Linked DNA regions of Homo sapiens: region 1 is linked to region 2. A link means that fine-mapping ties the variant in region 2 to the expression of a gene that starts in the linked region. Tissue or cell type: cerebellar hemisphere. Region 2 holds a variant in brackets; the other region holds the start of a gene. All regions are shown on one strand. Distances are from middle to middle.

Region 1 (8,105 bases), 620 kb before region 2:
TGGGGGCAAACAAATGAAAATCAATGCTACCAGGAAGACTGATACCTTACCAGTCCCCTTTCCCCCACAATAGGTAAACATAACTTTAAAAAGGGGTGACCTATTATAGCAACACCACACCCCGCAGTTGCTTTCCTATGGTAATAAATGACTTTGTAATACAAAATAAATTACAACTGTCAATTTCTACAGAGAAATATGGATAAGTGCACATAAACATTAAAAAATACACATATGTTGTAACTTATACCTATATGCCCACAAGTCTAAAACCAAAATCTTCCTCTTATATAGCATCACATAAAAGTGAAAATATTTTGAATGCTGTGGATTTTATTTAGGCGCTAGTGTATTCTCAAATTTGAAGTGATGTATTTTAAATAAAGGAATCACTTCTTTTAAAAATGGCTTATTAAACAAACAATCCTTTACCCATTACCCCCTAAACAAACAAAAAATCCCATAAACCAAAGTGCTAAAAATGTATGGTTATACTTAACCAGCCTGGTGGAATTTAAAGCTTGCCCCCAACTCTTCCCAAAACTCACGTAATTTGAATGAGAATACAAAACTCAAAACAAAAACCATCAGTAAAAAGCAAAACCCAGGAGTTCTGGTACTTTAGGTATAATTACGTTTAAAATAGAAATGAGATCTCCTAAAATTTCATTAAATCAAATTTTATAGAGAAGATAATTAGCACCTTCTATGAAATTTTCATAAGATGACCCAAAATAAATAGCTTTGAACAAAGGTAATGAAAAGGGATCTGTTATCACAATTCTTGTTATGAGGGCAGTACAAAATAGTATGAATTATAAACTCAGCTATTCCACTTACTAATGTAAATTATATTTACAGCCCTACAGAGATTTATAAAAGCCATAAGATTTTTTATTTGAATATTTTTTAACAATGCGTATTTGACTTAATGCGAACATACACACTATAAGCTTCAAAATTTAACTACTATTCATAAAAGAATATAAACGTCTATTAAATTAAAACAATTGTTTCTCAAAGCATCTACAGCTGTTTATCAGTTAGTTTGCCGCTGTTCTTTGAAAACGACACCTGCCTTTTATCAAGATGCAATTAAATGGAATGACAAGCTCGGTAATAAATGGAAATATACTGAGGCTGTCTCAGGCAACATCGAACAAAAATCAACTGAAAATCAACCAGATAAAAAACAGCACACCCACACTGTTGTATACAATATATTTCTTCATAATGAATTTATCAAAGGAACTAAATAATAGATACGCACCTGTGCTTACCTGTTGTCTAAATTAAGAAACATAAATGTTTTGTAAATTAAAGTTTTAGTTCACTGCAGTTACTGAATTAGCAAAATGTATATTTTCACTAGATGCGAAAAGTTTTTTAAATAAGATGTTCAATTTTTATGGAAAATGTTAAAAAGATCATTCGTGAACCTTAAGAAAATTAGTTTCTTTGCATCAAAATAAAAGAAACAACTGTCCGGTAATCTGCATCCAACAAATATATGTAGTTTAAGGTGAAAAATTCCTATCAAAGGAAAAAAACTAAATTTTTCACTCAGTTTTTAACCAATAAAGAACAGTGACAAATATATAAAAGTCTTGTTAATTTCAACCAGCAGAAACATAATTTTGCGAAAACAGCCTCTTCAGTTTTACTTTTAATATACATTTGAGAACCACACGAAAATCCTTTCTGAGAGGAAAAAAAACTATTAAAAACCAACTTTTTTTCTAAACTCTCGTCCTAACGTTTCGTAGCTATTTCCGTGGTTCTCTGGCTAAAAGTATATTTTTTCGTAAAGTCGAGAATTATAGTTTAGCGTTCAACATTCAAACCCCCCAGGCCCGCTTCCTTCCAGCCAATCAGGGGGTAACAAGTCCAGAGTTTAGGGAGCTCCGTTAGACACAATTTGAAAAACATCACATTGCACTCTTCTATTCTCCTCCGGGAAACATTCTAAGCGAGGGCGGGTCCCCCAGTCTTCATAGAATATAAGAAATAAATCAATCGTTACATCAATTCCACGGGGAAAAACTCTGTAGGCAGGCAGTCCTAAAGAAGCGTGTCACCGCGGTTCCCAGGAAGCGTTATTCCTCTTTGCGAACAACTGAACAGAATAGCTGCTGCAGAAAGCATCTCCGGAATATTTGCAACCCAGAGCCGTGCGCCCCACACGCAATACACCGGCAAAGGGTTAATCTAGTGGTGCCTCCAGCGCGGAAAAGAACTCAAGATCTAATACATCCTTAACGCGGGATTTTTACAAAGGCCATAGAAGTATTACCTAAAGTTAATGCCGTCACTGGCTCACATCACTCAAGAGCTGTGGAGTAAGAATTGATAGAAACCACCAGCTAAGGGGGAAAAAAAAAATCACCGAAGGGAAAGACAAATAACAACTCTCGTCCCTCCTCCTCAGCGTCAAGAAAAGGTGGGGATCGCAAAATTACCGTTAAGTTGTCCGGGTAAAGACTTTTGGGGGAGGAAAACATTAATAGTTTCACAGATTGCTTTTTTCCTTGCGACATGTTTCAAACACCGGAGAAGAAAAAAGTCTTCTAAGAAAGTGCGACTCGGAGGAAATAGCCACGAGAAGGAAATCGTTAGCTCGAAGCCCCATCTTTCATCTCACCCGTGAACACTCCTCCCCTTTGAGAAAGGACAACGCTGCGAGAGCAAATGACAAAAATCCCCAGAAAGAAGCTAAAGTCCAGCATCTTTCCTAAGAGCCCGCTACAACCTCAAAAGCCTGCCCCTGCCCCATCTTGGAAGCGCGAGCCGCGGCCAGTCCTACCTACCTAGAGACCTCACCGGGACCCAGCGCGCCGGGGGAGGGCAGCCAGGGCTTGGGAAACTCTTTCCTGGGGCACCTCACGCTTCAGCGTCAAAAGACAATATAGATAGATGGGTGCCGGGCGGTGGCGGGGGGGACTGTTGCCACGACCCACCGGAGGGACCCATGACTCCGGGTCCTGAATTTTCTGTCGACCTTAAGTTTCTTGTCACGAGATGACGGCCATCACCGGGTCGAGAAAACGGCGAGAAAAGGCGGCCCGGTTCGGAAATGGGGGAGGGGCGCGCGTCCAGTCCTCCTGTCAAGGAGCGGCCGCCTGCAGAGACCCCGCAGTGCGCCGTCCCCGGCTCCGGTCCCGGGCGGGGGGTCTTGCTGACAGATCCGCTGGGCGGCGGCTGCTCCGCCGCAGCCGGTCCGCGTCCCGCTCAAACTGCAGCTCCCCTCCCCCCACAGCCCCGTCTCTCCGCGCTCCCGCCACATTCCGCCCGCCGCCGCCCACTCGCAGACGCCCAAGTTGCCCCTAACCCTACTTCCTCGGATTTTTCGCGATTAAGTGAGAGTAGACCCCGCGCCCACTCCCTGCACCCACCACTGCCTGCGGGTCCCACCACTGCCACCTCCCGAGTCCCGCTCTGCTACTTCTTCAGGCTCTTACCGACTGCGCCAGCCTTGGCGAAGCTCCGCCGACTGCCCTTTGCTCCAAGTAATTTTTGGCGATTTTTAAAGTAATTTTTCCGGCGGAGTCATAGTGGCGCTATACTCTCGGACAGGTTATCCTGTCTCTCCCGCTAGATTGATGAGATCAGGCATCACTCGAAAATGGCGCCGAAAGCGCTGAGGCTCCTCATTCAAATTCGTTAGAGCCAACCCCGCCGCCCCAGGGAATGCCGGGAACGCGGGCTGCCTCCACAGCTGTCAATACCGCCTCTTAACCCCCCTTCTCTTGCTTTCCCGACATTTTTACGCATGCGCAAACTCCAACCCTCCCCCCTCCTCCCGCCAGGCACATGCGCAGAATCATCGTGGTGCACGGCTCTCCCTTTGCTTCTTCGGTTGCAGTCCTCTTGCTTCTTGCGCGTGCGTGTAGCGCTTTTGCAAAGCCGCGGAGGTGAAGTGAACTTAGAGGTTGTGGGGCCGAGGGGTCGTCTTATAGCTACCAGCCCACAGGCATTTAGTCTACGTTGGAGGTAAACAAATACGGGTCCTGCTTAGGAGAAAAGAAAAACGTCTTACAGCCAGTGTCTAAACTCCAAACAACGGAATGTATCAATGAGACCTTGTATATGGATACACGTGCATTTAAAACCGCCCTGCCGGCTTGTAGAGCTTTTGCCGTTCTCCAGCGCTTTACAGGGGTTATCGCACTTAAGCCTCGGAACAACTTTACCAGGTAGGAACTATTACTGTTCTCGTTTTGAAGACCAGGAAACCTAGGCTCAGAGACGTTAAGTAATTTGCCCAAGACAGCACAGGTGGCACAGAAGTGGATGAATCCACATCTGTCAGATTCAGCAGCCCTGGAGTTCTCTACCACGCTGTACGATTCAACCTGAGCCCACACAGGAGGCGTGGTCTCCTTCTTCAACGGTGTGTGTGTGTGTGCGCGCGCGCCTGCCTAGAGTTAATGATTAAGTTTGCTGAAGCCCTTCTTCCCGGTCCTAAGCTGCCTGTTGCGAAGGCGCTTTCATTGAATTCAGTTTCTCTTACCGTCTTAACTTGTTCATAAACTTTTTGAGATAGGAATGGGCAGTTTTTCTGTGTCACTTAGGATGATTTTTTTTTTTAATGGCGTGATAAGTGAACTGAATCCAGCAAAGACGAGTTTCTGTTGTGCAACACGTTGGTATACTGACAGCTACCACGTATTGACTGTGTACTGTGTGCTGGGCACTGTGCTAAATAAATGATTTACGAATTAATCGTGTTTATTGCTCACAACAGCCTTATGAAGTAGGTATTATCTTCACTTTACAGATGAGGACACCTGAGGTTCAGATTAAGAAATCTGCCCCAAAGTCTTAGAACTGGTAAGTAGAAGCACCATATCTAGGCAAACCTGTCTACCTTCAAAAAAAATGGGCACTCTGATAGGACAATTAACGATAATAAAGTTGTAATTTTTTTTTTTTTTTGAGACGGAGCCTCGCTCTGTCGCCAGGCTGGAGTGCAGTGGCGCGATCTCGGCTCACTGCAGCCTCCGCCTCCCGGGTTCAAGCAATTCTCCTGCCTCAGCCTCCCGAGTAGCTGGGACTACAGGCAAGTGCCACCACGCCCAGCTAATTTTTGTACTTTTAATAGAGACGGGGTTTCACCATGTTGGCCAGAAGGGTCTCGATCTCTTGACCTCGCGATCCGCCCGCCTCGGCCTCCCAAAGTGTTGGGATTACAGGCGTGAGCCACCGCGTGGAGCCCTATAAAGTTGTAAATATTTTAAAACCTTCATTGTGAATGTTAAATAAGAGAGTAGATATGAAAGTGCCTGAAGTACTAATAAGGAAGTGGGAGAAGGGTAGCATGGTTTGCATTATTTAAGTGTCTTGGAAAAGAAATGGATTTTAGCAATTTGAGATCAGCAAGAAGTAACGTGGCAGAGTAGTATAAATACACTACTTAATCTCTGGTACTTTTTTGCACTACTTAAGTGGGTCGACTCTGGAACCGAGCTGCCTGGGTGAATCCCAGCTCCACTACTTACTAGCTGTGCCTTGTTGGGTAAATTATCTGTTGGACCTTTTGTAAAACAAGTACTATTAATACCTCATTGGACTGTTGTAAGGATGTAAATGAGCTAACATATTAAAGGAATTTCAACAGTGCTTGGCATATTAGTAAATGTTTGTTATTGTCAGTCAGTCATTGATCTTTTAAACTGGCTTCTTTAATGGTTGTTCAAAAATCAAACTACAGTTAGTGCCTTTAGGGGTCAGCATTTTTTTTCTTTTTTTTTCTGAGAGGGAGCCTCACTCTGTTGCCCAGGCTGGTTGGATCACTGCAACCTCTGCCTCCCGGGTTCAAGCAGTTCTCCTGCCTCAGCCTCCCATGTAGCTGGGATTACAGGTGCGCGCCACCACGCCCGGCTAATTTTTGTATTTTTAGTAGAGACGGGGTTTCACCATGTTGGTCAGGCTGGTCTCCAACTCCTGACCTCGTGATCTGTCTGCCTTTGCCTCCCAAAGTGCTGGGATTATAGGCGTGAGCCACCGCGCTGGGCGGGGTTAGCATTCTTATTCAAGAGCTCCTTAAAATGATAAATCAAACTGACAAATGATTTTTCCCAAATATGAATAATGATCCCTGTTAGGCAAATAAGGATGTTAATTTATTTTACCATCTCATAAGAATAATACCTGGAAATGGAATAGATTTATTGCTTTTTCTGATTGTTAAGGTTAAAAAACCGAGGCCCATCTAAAATATATATAAAGTAAAAATCATCCAAATTTCTAGCATTCAGGGATAACCACATATTGTTTGTACTTTAAAAATATAATGTACCTGTGGGGACAATCAGCTAGGGGGGGTCTGGATAAGTGGTATATTTGGGAGACATGTGTAAAATTGTACTAGAACTTACAAATAGGTAAGTAGCACAATCTGGTTTCCTCACTGTAGAATTTTTTATCTTAGTCCCCTTTTAGATATAATATGTCAAGAGAATTCTAAAGTGATGATGATAAATGATAACATTTATTGAAGACCTAATATGTGTCAGACACTGGGCTAAGCATGTACATGCATTTTTCCATCGAATCATCATGTAACTCATTAAGTGGGTGCAATTATCTCTATTTTGCAGAGACTAAAGTTTATGTGTAAGTCACTTTTAGAAGATTTAAGTCTAATTGTGTTTAAAGTCTTATTTAAGAAAAAATCTTTCATGAAAGCTTCTTGATTTGCTAAAATGGGAGAAAACAAAATCAACTAACATACAGTAGTTCCTATGCCTGAACAGAGAGCCCGATTGTAAAAAACGGTCTTTTGAAAACTAAGAATTTTATATTTGACCACAAGGGGGTGCAAATTCCTGAGTTAAATTTCAAAGGAAAAACGGGAAAAGTGCTTTTACTTTAGACCATCAAATTCGTGGGTTAAAACTAGTAAGAATTCCTGCCTGGAACTTTAATACCCTACAAAGTAATGTACTTTATAAGAAGAAAGAACTCAATTACTTAGGTGCTCAATTAGGGCAGAAGTGTCAGCTTGCTTTCTTCAATACAGTCAAGAGTTAATCATCCCTCCCCCACCCCTTTCCACTCACAGTTAGTTTGTGTCTCTGCATACCCCTCTTTACTTGTCAATAAGAGTAGAACTGAAGTCATAATTTAAAATCTGGGGTTTTGCTCTTGGAAACTGAAATGCAATCACCAGCTAATGGATGCTAAATATGGGTAGTGTGAAGAACAGAGGTCTTGTAATTTCTATGCTTTTTTTCCCTCCTGCTGAAGTTTATAATGAGTAAGCTACAACTGATGCAATGTTGGCTTCAACATATTAACTTATTTAGATAAAACTGTGAAAGCTATAGGTCTGTTCATCTTTCAAGAAAGAATGCAGGCCGGGCGCGGTGGCTCACGCCTGTAATCCCAGCACTTTGGGAGGCCGAGGCAGGCGGATCACGAGGTCAGGAGATCGAGACCATCCTGGCTAACATGGTGAAACCCCGTCTCTACTAAAAATACAAAAAAATTAGCTGAGCGTGGTGGCAGGCGCCTGTAGTCCCAGCTACTCGGGAGGCTGAGGCAGGAGAATGGCATGAACCTGGGAGGCGGAGCTTGCAGTGAGCCGAGATCGCGCCACTGCACTCCAGCCTGGGCCACTGAGCAAGACTCTGTCTCGAGAAAAAAAAAAGAAAGAAAGAATGCAGACAGTACCTTGAAAACAGTATATACTACTGAATGTATTAAAAACTTTGCTTAGCAGGGTTTTCAACTTCCTTTTATTTTCGTGTTGGTCTTGTTTCTCTGAGATGGGACTTAATTTAAAAAATACAACTTTTTTTGGAAATAATTTCAAATTTACAAAAAGTTACAATATTAAAAAGAGTTCAAAGAACATCTATATCATTTGCTTGCTCTTGTACATGGGTGAGTTTTCTTTTTCTCTCTCTCTCCATATACACAGTCTATAAAAAACACACAGAGGAAAAATACAAGAAAAAAACTTTCAACCCATATCAAGGTTTTATGATTATAGTTAAAAATATACATATCAAAAAGTCAAACTAAAATTTTGCAGTGTTGACACTGCCAAACTATTCTTTTAAGGAACATTGGTGTTCTATCAGCTAGTCCAGTGATTTTTG
Region 2 (8,105 bases):
AAAAAAAATATATATATATATATATATAAAAATATGTGTGTGTGTATCTATCATATATATGTACATCTATCATGTATATACATATATGTGTGTATGTATACACATGTACATACATACATTGGATGTGTTGGAATGGCATAGTTTTAGTCCTCTGGGAATTATTTGTAGAAGACATATATCCGTGTAAGATAAATCAAAGTCAAAATTTACCATAAAACTAATGATCATTTTCCAACTGGCTTCTTATGAGACTCAAAAAACTTCACAGACATAAAAATCACTTTGAAAACATAATGCTTTTTAGCGATAGATAATACGTTACTGATAATTAATAGACAGATACAGCTGTATCTATATAATCAATATTGTGACATGTCACTCATAAGTACTTCAGCTTGCATTTTCTAAGAATAAGGACATTCTACTACATAACATTTTCATTATTATAGCCAAGAAAAAATAACATATAACATATCTAATATACAGGCCAGATTTGAATTCCCCAATTTTCCCAAAATTGACTTTCATATATTTTTTTCTCTGATCCAGGATCCCGTCAAGATTCACACATTATATTTGGTTGCTATTATCTCTTTGATCTCTTTAACTATAGTATAGTTCTCAGTTCTCCTGTCTTTGCACTTTTTAAAAGTTTTTTGTAGAGACAAGGGTCTCACTTTGCTACCCAGGCTGGTCTCAAACTCTTGGCTTCAAGTAATCCTCCCGCCTTGTCCTCCCAAAGTTGGGATCCTTTGTACTTTTTTTTTTTAATGACATTTTTATGAATTCAAGGGAATTGTCTTCCTGAATGTCCCATTGTCTGGTTTTATATGATAGTTTTCTCATGATTAGATTCAGGTTAGCCTATTTGGTAAGATATTGCACATAATTTACATTTTTAAAACATTATTTTAATCATAAATATAGTATAGTACTGTAGCAGAAAACTTGGAAAGTAGAAAAGAAAGAGAAGCCACCAATAATCCCACTGACCTGACTCACACGATAGCATTCCAATGCATTTCCAGCCTTTTCCTTATTATTCTTTTTAGCATAGTTTTAATTATATTGCCAATCCAACTTTGTATTCTGGTGGATTTTTATGTAATATCACATCCTAAGCAGTTTCACTGTAAGTAATGGCATCAATACTAACAATATTAACTGCCATTTATTGAGTACTTAATGAGTCAGAAGCAGTATCAGGCAAACTATATTTATTTATTTATTTTAAAGTTCATTACAGCCGTATGAAATAAGTTCTATTAATATCCCTGTTTTAGAATTGAGAAAACTGAGACTCTGATACCACAGCTGGTAATGGGTAAGGAAGAAATTTGAAACCAGATGAATGTGATTCTATCCCACTATCTGTCTCCTATAATTTCTATTGAATGTGCTTTGACCTGTTCATTTCATGTAAACACACTAGTAGCTCTTATCAGCTTAGGCCTGCCCTGCTGCTTTAGCATATTTGACAAACCCTAACTTTTTCTTTGGACTGCCCCTTCAGCTTATGAGCAAAGCCCTGCACTGGCTTCAGAGACTAGTGCTATTTTTTGCCTAAGAACTTAAATCTTAACCAAATTTGGTTTACCCAGTCTATTTTTATTTCTCAAGGAGGCAATGCAACAAAGTCATCAAAAAGACTGGGTCAGGGGTGGGTGAATAAAATCAATCAAGTGAGACTACTGCCAGGGCCAAAGTCTTAAGCATTCCAGGCTTAAATTCCACCACCATGGGTGGTGGTGGCAGGTTTCTGTCCCTGGGCCCCAGAGGCCCCTCTTCGAGGAGGTATTGCCCCTGACAGCGGCATGGCTGTGGATTGGGGATCTCTCTTCTCTTCGGCTCTAATAGGAGACCCTGAAATTTAAGCTGTGCAAAATGATCCTGATGTAAAGGGCCTCTGACCCAAGCACACCCCAGTGATTAGAAATGTGTCAGATGTCAAAGCCTGAAGAAGCACAACTTCTAATACTTCTCAATGCCCTTTAATGTGGGTTATATGCCTACATTTGTCTTACAGCTCATGGTGCCATCCAGGGAGGAGGCAGCAGCAGTAGGAGAAAGCTTTGCCAGCACAACCTTTGGGAGGGGTGTGAGCACAGCACAAAGGAGCCTAATGCATTTCAACCGCAGCCAAGTTAGTGGTTTAGACTTCATAAACATGTTTTAAATGTTATGACTCTTTATGCCATGGCATTCCTACTCCAAAGGATAGCTACCTAAAAATTTAAATATATAAAAAATTAAAAACCCCAATTCAGCAAATAGTTCAAGACTTTGATGAGAAGAAAAGCTGATTAATCATTTTCTTGTTGCTTGCCTTTCTTTTGACATTTTTCTGACCTTTTCCAAAACCATTACACATCTGGGATGCTCAATCATTTACTAAAAGGGTTAAGGCAATATAACCTCCTTGTGATTAAGAATAAAAATGAAGTGGAATGGAGTCCTTCACAGTTTTACAGTTTTACTTGACTCAGGGGTTGGAGGTGGTGATGAGGACCTAGAAAAGTTTCTATTATAATAATTTTCTTTAGTATTTGGTATTGAGAATGATGGGAAAAAATCAAGAGATGTGATTAACCCATGAAACTAGCTATATTTGGTTACAGACTGCCCTAGCCCTATAAGTTATTTTGCGATGCTATCTGTAATGCATTTAAAGAGCCTGTTGTTACCGACATGTGTCAGTTATCTATTGCTATCATGATGCTTCATAAAAAATAAACACAAACGTTCAGTAGCATATGATAATAGATATTTATAACTCCTGCATTTGGAGTGCTTAGCTAGGCAGTATGCTGATCTTGGCTGTGCACGTTCACATATCTGGGGGTAAATTGGCTGTCAGCTGATCAAGGCTTCCCTTGACTGGGATGATTGGGGCAATTTGGCTCAGTTCCAATTATCTTTCATTCTCCAGCAGACATATTCTTGAGGCAATGACAGAGGCACAAGAAAGCAAGCCTCAATGCACAAGACCATTTCAAGTCTTTTGTTGTGTCATATCTCCTAAATTCCATGGGACAAAGCTAATTTTGAGCCCAATTTCAAGTGGTGGAGCAGGTTACCTTATCCACAGTAGGAGGACATTACAAAGTTACCTGCAAAGACCTCGTTAAAGGGATGGTAAAAACCTGGGTCCGTATACCAGGTGATACTATGTCGTGTAGGGTTAAAGTCAGTATGAATTGTTTACCAACAGCTAACATCCAGTGCAGATCCAATCATGAGGACAAGCTGTGCAATAACAACAGGCACGTTGGTGGCTGGTTTCATAAGCCAAGGTAGAAGAAATAAGTTAGGATCAAAAAGTGACCAGGGCTGGGTGGTGGCTTACTCCTGTAATCCCAGCACTTTGGGAGGCCAAGGCAGGTGGGTTGCTTGAGCCCAGGAGTTCAAGACCAGCCTGGGCAACATGGAGAAACTCTGTCACTACCAAAAAAAAAATTAGGCATGATGGCATGTGCCTGTAGTCCCAGCAGCTTGGGAAGCTGAGGTGGGTGGTGTGCTTGAACCCAGGAGATCAAGGCTGCAGTGAGCAGTAGTTGTGCTGCTGCACTCCAGCCTGGGCAACAGAGCAAGACCAAGACCCTGTCAGAAAAAAAAAAAAAAAAAAAAAAAAGGTGGCCAGAAATGTAAATCCTTCCTAAAGTGATCTGTAGATTCAATGCAGCCTCAATACAAATCCTAGCAAGATCTGTTGTAGAAATCAACAAGCAGATTCTAAAATTTTTATGGAAAAGCAAAGTAAACAGATTAGTGAAAAGAATTTGGAGAAAAAACAAAGTTAATCTAAAGAATTAACTCTAAAGCTACAGTGTCAAAAGTATGCATGTTGGTGAAAGAGTCACCACAAGTCAATGAAATTAAACTGAATCCAAAATAAATCCACAAATATAAGGATAATTGATTTTCAACTAAGGAACAAAGGAAATTCAATGGAGGATAGTTTTTTTCAACAGATGTCAGCGAAACAGATACCTATATGCAAAAACATGATTCTCAACCCATCCCTTGCCTCAAATACAAAATCAACTCAAATTGGAACATAGGCCTACATGTAAAACCTAACAATAAGAAATTTCTAGAGGAAAAGATAGGGAAGAGATTTTTGCAACCATCGATAAGTGCTGCTTTCTTAGCTAGGCCACACACAAAAATTAAGTAGGACTTCATTGAAATAAAAAGTGCTGTTCTTTGAAATATACTGTTAAGAAAAAAAATAAATAGACAAGCCACAGACTGGGACAAAATATTTACAAAATACGTATGTTATGAAAGACTTGTTTTCAGAATATATAAAGAACTCTGACAAATAATAATAAAAGTAAACTAACAACCTAATAAAAAATGGCCAAAAGACTTGGACATTTCAGCAAAGAAGGTATGTGGAAGGCAAATGAACAAATGAAAAGACACTCAACAGTATTCGTCATTAAGGATATGCAAATTAAAAACAGTGAAATACTGCCATACCTCTTTTTAACAATAGAAACTTTAAAACGGCAAGGTCAAGAGCTGATAAGGATGCAGAGTAATTGGAACTCTCAGGTATTGCTGGTGGTAATGCTAAGTGCCACTTAAGAAGTCAGTCTGACAATTTCTTATAAAGTTGAATGTCACTTATACAACTGAGCATTTGGATATTTACCCAAGAGAAATGAAAACATAAAGCATTGGAGTATCTACCCGAGAGATATAAAACATCTTCATGTTG[C/A]GAGGCATTATTCACAACCTCCAAAAAATTACGAACAACCCAAATAACCACCGCCCAGTAAATAAATGAACAGACTCTGTTACATTGATACAATGGAATATGACAGCAATTAAAGAGAATAACTTGTGCTATATGTAACAACACGGATGAACTCAAATGCATAATGCTAAGTGAAAAAAAGCCAGACTTAAAAGACCACCTGCTCTGTCCTTTCATATGAATCACATGCCACAAAAGGCAAACTATAGGGACAGTAATTGCCAGGGGCTGAGAATGGAGAGAGAGGACTGATCACAAAGGTGCAGAGAGAATGCTCTAGGTCTTGATTGTGGTGGTGCTTACACAACTGTATGTGTTTTTCAAGATCCATCAAACTGCACACTTAAAAAGGGTAAATTTTACTGTATATAAATTATACCTTGAAAAACCTGACTTTAAAAAAAGGGAAGCCAGGGAAGCAAAAGACAGAGCCAGATACATCATACATCACTAACTAGGTGTGTAGCTGAAGCTTCTGTTCCAGCCGCTAAGCATGTGCTGAGCCACGTGCCACCTTTTCTTAGTCTTTTCAGTCAACAGCTATTGTTAGAAAAGACATCTTGAACCAAAAGCTTAGACATTTTAGTACTCTTTTACCCAGATTCCTTTTCTAGAAATGTGTCCTACAGAATGAACCTTAAATTACTTAAGCGCTGATGATGCCTCTTGTGCAGCTCTCTACAGCAATAGATGTAAGAAGTGCTCACTTTCTGAGCTTTGAGGTCATGTGTCTAACTTCTTCTGTTTCCCTTTAGAAAGAATGTGTGCTTGAGTCAGGTTGGTCTGCCACACCTGAGCATTCCATACTCTCTTTAGTCAAATCTCTGGGTTGATAAAATTGATTACTGAGGAGATGATAATAAGATGCTTAACTCCAGATTCTACAGACTGCCTTGGTCTATATCATAGACTATATCTCAGGCCATACCTGCAGGAGGCCCATGGCAGCTTAGAGGGCTGCCTTGTAGAAACTTTGGTCAAATCAAGTCACATCCTAAAGAGAAGAAAGTGGCTAACTTTTAGAAATTGCTGAAACAGATCCTTCTATTGAATAGAAGCCACCCTGAATGGTTGCTCACTCACCATACAGCCTGGAAGAAACCAGGGTCTCTCCTAGGTTCCTATGGAGAGAGGTCAGAGTGTCTAGTCTAACTCTCAAACTCACTTAAACCACCAAAGAATTCACCCTCAGTTAAGATTTGGCTTTATGGCAGCTGATTGGTGATAGTACTAGGGGCAGGGGAGGTAATTGCCTCACTTCCCAAACTTTCAGTCCTATTGGAAGGTGACACAGCTGTAGTTTTACCCATCTTGAAAATGAGAAGGTGATTGGTCCAACCCCCTCTTACATAGATGAGGAAATGAGCACTTGAGATCTAACTATAAAGCCAGTTAGTAGCAAGTGGTGCCACTGATTAAGCCTCCTGATATTCGGTTATGTGTCTGATCAGCTAGCTTCAGACTAAACTGAGTCTTTTGCTTAATAATTTGCCTAAGAAACGCAGATACAACACACACACACACACAAACACACACACACGACAGAGAAAAATACAACTACCATGCATCATGTACACATCCAATACTAAGGAATCCAAATCAATTCTTCTTCTTTTTTTATTATTTATTTATTTATTTTATTGTTATTATTTTTTGAGACGGAGTTTCACTCTTGTTGCCCAGGCTGGAGTGCAATGGCACAATCTCGGCTCACTGCAATCACAGCCTCCCGGGCTCAGCGATTCTCCTGTCTCAGCCTCCCGAGTATCTGGGATTATAGGTGCCCGCCACTACGCCTGGCTAATTTTTGGTATTTTTAGTAGAGATGGGGCTTCACCATGTTGGCCAGGCTGGTCTTGAACTCCTGACTTCAGGTAATCCGCCCGCCTTGGCCTCCCAAAGTGCTGGGATTACAGGCATGAGCCACCATGCCCGGCCCAATCCTTCTTCTATTGGGGTTGTTATTAAAAGAGAATAGCAGAACAGAAAGAAGTCTTAAGAGTCCAGGCTCTGGAGTGGGCTATTGGGATGCAAAATAATCTAAAGTATTCTGTGCCTCAGTTTCCTTATTTGTACAAAATGGATGATGATAATACCTCTACCATAAGGTTGTTATAAATATTTAACTGGTTGCTATATGTAAAATGCTTAGAATAAAGCCTGACACATCAGTGGAAATTCACTATTACTCTCTCCATTGGACTGAAGCTGGCAGCTTTACAATTACAGCTGTTCACATACCATAGTCCCCATTCCTGGTACAGCTACCTTCTTTGTGGCTCTTCTCTTTAGATCAAAGTAGCACCAGATAGTGCAGCAAAAGATCATGTTCATGTTAGAGAAAACTGGTTCTTTACCTCGAATAGCTTCCCATATGTTCTGTGCAAGGTTGGTGCTATAATTTTTTTAAGTACCTGCAAATTTCATTCAGAATAACCATATTTAACTTTTCTCATATAAATGTGGTGGTTGTTCTGGTATGAGATTCAGCTCCCTGTCTGTTTGGGTCCTTGGGCTTGGTTCACAGCTTCTCAACAGCTGTCTTCAAACACGCAAGAATCTACCCTGCCTAGGCCGACTCTCCCAGACGTGGCCCTAGGGTGTTTGGAGCCATGCTACCTCAGGGTATTTTCTTTTTCTTTCTTTCTTTCTTTCTTTCTTTTCTTTCTTTCTTTCTCTCTTTCTTTCTTTCTCTTTCTTTCTTCCTTCCTTTCTTCCTTCCTTCCTTTTTTTTTTTTTGACATAGGGTCTCACTCTGTTATCCACGCTGGGGTGCAATGGCATGATCATGGCTCACTGCAGCTTCGATGTCCTGGGCTCAAGCAATCCTCCCACCTGAGCGTCCTGAGTAGCTGAGACTACAGACATGCATCACCATGCCCGGTTAATTTTTTTTTTTTTTTAATTTTTGCAGAGATAAGGTCTCGCTGTGTTGCCTAGGCTGGTCTCAAACTCCTAGGCTTAAGCGATCCTCCCACCTCGGCTTCCCAAAGTGCTGGGATTACAGGCCTGAGCCACCTCACCCGGTTGTATTTTCCTTCAATCAATGACATTCAGCTTCCTGCTGTCCCCTCCAAGAGTGTGAAGGGCTGGCATCAGGTTGTTGCTGGAAATATCAAGGCAATCAGAAGGCTGGATCATTCCTGTAGCAGTATTGGCTGAGTGTCCAATGGGCTGGAGCCATTGGAGAAGCCAGTTCTGACCATTACCCAGGGTTTACATCTGACTCCATGGGCTTCACTAAAGTTGTTGGCCTGGTTTGGATAGTAAGCACTTGAGTTTATGACTTCTAGATAATTTTTCACTATAGCAGCCAGAGCTCAGGGTGAGCAAAAGGGAA

Alleles and levels. Alleles are on the strand shown, and positions count from the first base shown. SD is a standard deviation of normalised expression in the study named.
With allele C in place of A in region 2, the expression in cerebellar hemisphere of the gene that starts at base 3,805 in region 1 is higher (moderate effect, 0.48 SD a copy in GTEx).

The links. PIP is the estimated chance that this variant, and not a neighbour inherited with it, causes the effect.
Region 1: DLEU1 starts here. The variant in region 2 is fine-mapped to the expression of DLEU1 in cerebellar hemisphere (GTEx, PIP 0.99).

What each region holds. Positions count from the first base shown.
Region 1 is chr13:50,078,365-50,086,469 of GRCh38, forward strand. DLEU1 (deleted in lymphocytic leukemia 1) reads left to right here and starts at 3,805. Exons shown (of 7, transcript NR_109974.1): 1 at 3,805-4,193; 2 at 4,778-4,830. All of the region lies in intron 1 of DLEU2 (deleted in lymphocytic leukemia 2), which reads right to left. RefSeq lists enhancers at 2,257-2,316, 3,934-4,729 and silencers at 2,949-3,243, 3,107-3,326, 3,727-3,776.
Region 2 is chr13:50,698,763-50,706,867 of GRCh38, forward strand. No RefSeq gene overlaps it. Among named protein-coding and RNA genes, the nearest start is that of DLEU7-AS1, 110 kb to the right of the region's middle. The variant C/A (reference allele first, on the strand shown) is at 4,727.